2 separate regions of the Homo sapiens genome follow, and region 2 is linked to region 1. The links come from fine-mapping of genetic effects on gene expression. A gene starts in region 1. The other region holds a variant in brackets. All regions are shown on one strand. Distances are from middle to middle.

Region 1 (2,909 bases):
CACACACACACACACACACACACACACACAAAATAACTATGTCAAGGAACATTTCTGCTCTTTTCTCCCAGGGATATGCAGTCAATTTCTGGAGATGAGGAAGATGTCATTTTCTATCTACCAGAAGTATCCATACTGCATGGAAATCTAATGACAATTCCCAACCTCAGTTAAGGACTTGTTTTTCCATTTTTCTGAACTTCAAATACTTTCTAAATTGTGTTAGCCGAAGCATTGTATGTATATAATTAACTCATAGGTCCCTCTGGGCCCATCTAGCTAAACTTGTGGAGCTTAACTGAGCAAAACATTTGCTGATGTCTCTCCCTACAGTGGTACCCATTGAAATGAATACCTTCTACAAGATGAAACCTAGGAAATGTCGTTTCCAATTGGCTTTCTACTGATTGGGGTTGATGTCTTTTCCAAATTGGCTTTCTAGTGATTTGGGTTGCTTCATTAAATGTTTTTGGTTGTTTCATAACAATAGTAATCTCATTTTCTTTCAAAAGTAGAGTTTGAAATTTGGGAAAACATGGGTGGGGAGGGAATTCTACATTTTCTTCCTAGTTGAAGTAGGAAGACAGGTCTCTTTTCTGTATTAATTGGACTCCTGAAATTCCCCCAGGGTAGCAGTGGCTCTCTGTGGGCACAGGGCTCTTATGCTTATGTTTCTGTGCTTCAATGTACCTTCCATGCTGACAGCAAATAGAAGGTGTTCCTGCACAAGCAAAACCTAACGGAGAGGCTGCAATAATTTGTCCAAAACGAAGTGCAAACTGCAAGGGAGAGTGGACTTTTTCAGACTGATCCTGTTTACTAGTCTGGTGCTTTCCTCCACCTGTGTAGACACAGATGCTTTATTGAACACCAGCCTCCTACAGTTAGAAGGTATTTTGACTCTTAGGAATGGGGGAACCAGTTGCAAAGTTCTGGCCCCTGATCCCCCTCCTATTCCTACTAGAGGGCTTAAGATAGGCTCTGAGCGGCACTTCCCACTTTCTCCTCTTTTTCTGAAGCTTCGAGCCCCAAACCTCGCCCTTTAAATTCACCAAGGGACCACATGCATCATATAAGGGTGAGGAAAAGGGACCTGGATGTAGACTTCCTGACTATCCAAAGGAACCTACTTCTCTTTGCTGTTCTCAAGTTCAGGCGTCCGGAGAAAGGCAGGGAGCTAGGGGCTCTGGGTGCTAGCGTAGACGTGGCCCTTAGCTGAGTGGCGCGAGAGGGGAGGAGGTTGGAAGAGCGCGTCTATGCGTTCCACCTGAACCTGCAAGCTAGTCGCTTGCTGCCCAGGTGCCGATTCGCGGCTGCATGCGCCCCACTGCAGCAAAGAGCAGCCGCAGCCTCTGCCTCGGCCACCACTGCTGCTGGGAAAGAGTCGTGGGGCTGCTGACGCGGTTGGGAGGAGCCTCGCCTTTAATGCACCAGCCGCCTCCAGCCTCCTGCAGCAGCAGCAGCAGCAGCAGCAGCAGCAGCTGCGAGTGCGCGCGTGTGGGTGTGAGGGTGAGTGCGCTGGCGCCGGCTGCAGCGCCCTGCCCAGCTCCCCGCCAGCTTCCCTACCCCCGCCTGCCGGAGCCGCCCTCCCGTGGGACCAGCACCCTCATTCCGGCCAGGCAAGCCTGAATCCTGTCCCTGCCATCTCGCCACTGCAGCTCGGGTCCAGAAAGGCACCATTTTGTCGCGGCTGCCCGCTCTCCCAGGGGGAGGAGGGATCTTTTTTGCATTTTGGAGCGGCTGCCAAGGAGGGGAACCTGTTGGGCATCTCCCCAGACCCGCTTGTGAGCGCCTCCGGGGCGGGCGGGCGGGACCAGACCCCTCGGGGCACGGCGTATCTTGGCACCCGGAGGCAGCGGAGGCAGGCGCAGCATCCTCGCTGGGAACTGGAGCTGGAGTGAGCGCACCGCGCGGGAGGAGCCGCCGCAGCCTCGCAGAACCCGAGTGGAGGAGGTGACAGCTCCATTGCCGGGTTTTTATTTTTTTTCTCTCCGCCTCCCCGTCTCCTCCTCAGGCTCGGACCATGGTGCAGTCCCACTGGCTCCCCTGCCCCCCTCTCCTGTGAGACTGGCTGCGGGGAGGGATCATGGATACTTGTCTGCCGGCTTCTGGTTCCCACGCAAGTAAGCCTGCTGTCAATGGAGGAGGACATTGATACCCGCAAAATCAACAACAGTTTCCTGCGCGACCACAGCTATGCGACCGAAGGTAACGCCAGCCCCGCCGCATTCCGCCGTTGGGGCCGGGCGCAAGTTGCGGATCACTGTGCTTCCTGGGCAGCTGGGCGCGTAGTGGCGGAGACTCCTCCGGGCCCTAGGGCTGGGGCGGGGGCTCGGCTGGCCCCGGCAGCCCCAGTGCACCTCGCATCCATCCGGGCTCCGCGAGGCGAGCTCGGCGTTCAGCAGCAGGTGGACCCGGCGCCCACGGGAGTTAAAATGGCCCTCAGGGATTAGGCTTTTTCAGGGTGGGGCTCTCGCCCAGAAAGATGACCCCAGGAAGGCAGATGACCCCTTCCCCGAGATGTTCGCAGGGGTCTTGGGGGGAGATAAGAAGGGAGGGGCCCAGTAGGACCTTGGTCCCCCCTCCCTGAGCGAAACGATGTTATGTCTCTCAGTGGCTGCAGGGAGGGCAAGGTTTCATTTCCTGCCCATTCATCTCCCCGGCCGGCCAGGTTACCTGCTTAGACAATCAAAACCCCAAAAAGCCCTTTGCAGACGGGCGAACCTCTTTCCTTTTGGAAGTGCATTAGCAAAAATAAAAAGGTGGCTGGGGAAATAGTGCTCTGGCGGGCAGCGAATGAGGCTGACACGTGGGGTGAGCAACGCGATCGGTGGGGCCTTTAAAAATCACCATTATGAATTCTGCAGCAGTAGTTTCTGCTGAATCAACAGCCAGCAGAAAGCAAAAGG
Region 2 (2,909 bases), 55 kb after region 1:
GATTGCACCACTGCACTTCAGCCCCATCTCAAAAAAAAAAAAAAAAGTATTGATTCTTGCATTTTTCTCAATTTAGGACTAAGAGAGGCTTAATTAATTATTATGAAGAGTTTTCATACAGTTTTCTTTCTATCTCTGTTAAAGCCCGTTTCAAAAATTACCACTCTACCACAGTGTGTGTCATGAGTCTACTTTTTCTAGTGCATACTCCCTTCCTCTTACCCAATGCTTTCCCCCAAAACTCAACTATTCTATGTATGGCCAACCCTCTTCTGTGATGATAAGAACCAAATGAAAAGCAATAGATGCTAATTCTATAGCTATTGAAGGTACCCTAGGGAGCCAAAGAGCTAACTCACAAATTGGAAATCATATAACATGGCTGCTCTACCAGCAGTATCTGCCCTTATTGGCCTGAAAACTAGAGATGGTCATGAGGAACACAAATTGAGGCAAACTCACTACCAATGTGAACATCTTCCCTGTGATTCTTTCCATGTCATGAATCTCCATCTGATTTTTAAGGCTGGGTTGGGAGGATGAGACTGACTCTATGTTCTAGGCTTTTGGAATAGAAATAGCCTCATGTTCAATAAGCTTTCTGCTCTTCAGTAAATTATGTTGCCATCAGATTTGACATAATTACATATATACATTTCAAATCCTACTTTGTGTAGCTTCCTGTGACATCTGATAGAGGGGAATTTGTGGCTTAGCTGCTTATAAGTGAAGAAGATGACAGTGGAAACCTGTTGGGAGAGCACTTGGTGTTTGTACCTGCATTCACTTTGCATGCACATCTACTACCAGGGATCCAGGAGGGAAATGGAGTGCTACCCCTAAGCTTTCAGATGGTACTTGCTGACTTGTAAGCAAGGACCATTACAGCATAAGTTTGGTTGAGCCAACTTTTCTTTTTCAAATTAACTTGAAATGAGGCAAACAGGGACTTCTGTTTGGCTATGTTTTGCAAAAATCACTGTTAACACACAGGTGGGCTACTAAGGGCTGTTATTTTTTCAAGTTATTAAAAGGAAAATTCAGAAAGTTAGGGAGAAGAATTATTTTATACTTCTGCTTGAGAAGAACAACATATGTTTGTCATGGATGATTGAATCCATTTCCAAGATTTTAAACTTTAAAGTGGACGTGGCACTATGACATTAGGAATGAGGTTACCAGATAATTTTTAAGTTAATTCTCGAAATTAAACTACTTGGAAAATCTGTTCTTCCCATCTCAGTGCACGTTCTGCTCGTTATGTGGTGTGCCGTCTAAGTAAACTCTGGGCCAGGTGCAGTGGCTCACGCCTGTAATCCCAGCAATTTGAGAGGCCGAGGAGGGCAGATCACGAGGTCAGGAGATCAAGACCATCCTGGCTAACATGGTGAAACCCCGTCTCTATCAAAAATAAAAAAAATTAGGCGGGCCTTGTGGTGGGCGCCTGTAGTCCCAGCTACTCAGGAGGCTGAGGCAGGAGAATGGAGTGAACCTGGGAGGTGGAGGTTGCAGTGAGTCGAGATCATGCCACTGCACTCCAGCCTGG[GC/C]GACAGAGCAAGACTCCATCTCAAAAAAAAGAAGAAGAAGAAGAAGTAAACTCTGGCCACAGAGCAAGTCCACCATAGGTAGTGATATGCAGGCTGTCAGATGAAATCTCCAGATTGAAACCAGAACAGGGGGCTGAGCTCCAAACTGGAGAAGAAGCATGTGTAACCTTTTGGTTCACATGGAGGGAGTGTCTCCAAACAGTCCCTTTTGCCAAAAGACTCAGCTTTCCTTAAATATAAAGAAAAACAAAAGTCTTTTTTTCTCAAGGATGTAAGAATGATGTTTGCAATTTGCTCACTTCTTCCTACAAGTTCTAAATTTGGGGACTGCATTGCTTTTAGTTTTAAGGAGGTTATATAAATCTAGATGACAAAGGCACGGAAAGACTTATCTTGGTGCTTTAGTGGTGATAAAAGAAGCTTATTTCTTCATTTAGCAAATGTTTACTGAATATCTACTATGTATCAATCACTGTTTCATGTGTTGGTCATAAAGAAGTGAGCAAGATCAAGATTTCTCTCTTTTCTAATAATAATCTGTGGGAGGAAGAACCCACAAAGCAAATGAGAATTTTATATGTTGATAAATGGTATGGAGAGATTAGGACAAGTTAAGGATATAGAGAGTGGGTGGTAAACAAATATATTAGATGGAGAAGTATTCTTGACAGGACAACCTAAAAAGCAAAAAAAAAAAAAAAACCAAAAATGAAGAAAATTTAGGGAATGAGGACTTCCTGGAGAGAAAATAGTAAATGCAAAGGCCCTGGAGCAGTAATGAATGTGGAGAGTATGAGAAACAGAAGACCAGTGCAACCTGAGTATGATGACTGAAACAGACAACAGTGGTATGAGAGTTAGGCAGGATCCAGACCATATGGAGGCTTGGAGGCCATGAAAAGATGGGTGATTTTATTTGGAGAGCAAGGAGAAGTCACTGGAGGGCTTAGAAGCAAGAAAATGATGTAATCTGAGTTATGCTTTCCAGAAGATCGCTCTTTCAAATGTTCATCCTCATTTGCAAGGCTCTGCTCTAAATTGAGGAGCCAGTCCTTCTTCTGGCATCTTACCAATTTGTTATTTTACGAACTTTCTTTTCTTGTAAAATAAGCATATTTAGGAAAACTACACAGCATAGTACAAAGGATTGGACAGCTATATCATTTTTAGATGGACTCATTTTTGAAATGTGAGACAATGTTTTACACGGAAATAACACTCAAAGGCTGAGTTCTAGTCTTACTTGGGCCACGGATTCACTGTGTGTTCTGAACACAGTTACTTACGTTGTCAGTGTGTATTTTGCCATTGGTAAAATGTGAATATGAATATTAGTAGTTCCTTTGCTTACTTTGCATAAAT

What was found. PIP is the estimated chance that this variant, and not a neighbour inherited with it, causes the effect.
Region 2: its variant is fine-mapped to the expression of PPP2R2B in blood mononuclear cells (TOPMed, PIP above 0.99).

Annotation. Positions count from the first base shown.
Region 1 is chr5:146,877,301-146,880,209 of GRCh38, reverse strand. PPP2R2B (protein phosphatase 2 regulatory subunit Bbeta) reads left to right here and starts at 1,453. Exons shown (of 10, transcript NM_181675.4): 1 at 1,453-1,619; 2 at 2,015-2,208. The coding sequence starts at 2,139.
Region 2 is chr5:146,821,876-146,824,784 of GRCh38, reverse strand. All of the region lies in intron 2 of PPP2R2B (protein phosphatase 2 regulatory subunit Bbeta), which reads left to right. Among named protein-coding and RNA genes, the nearest start is that of PPP2R2B, 55 kb to the left of the region's middle. The variant GC/C (reference allele first, on the strand shown) is at 1,547.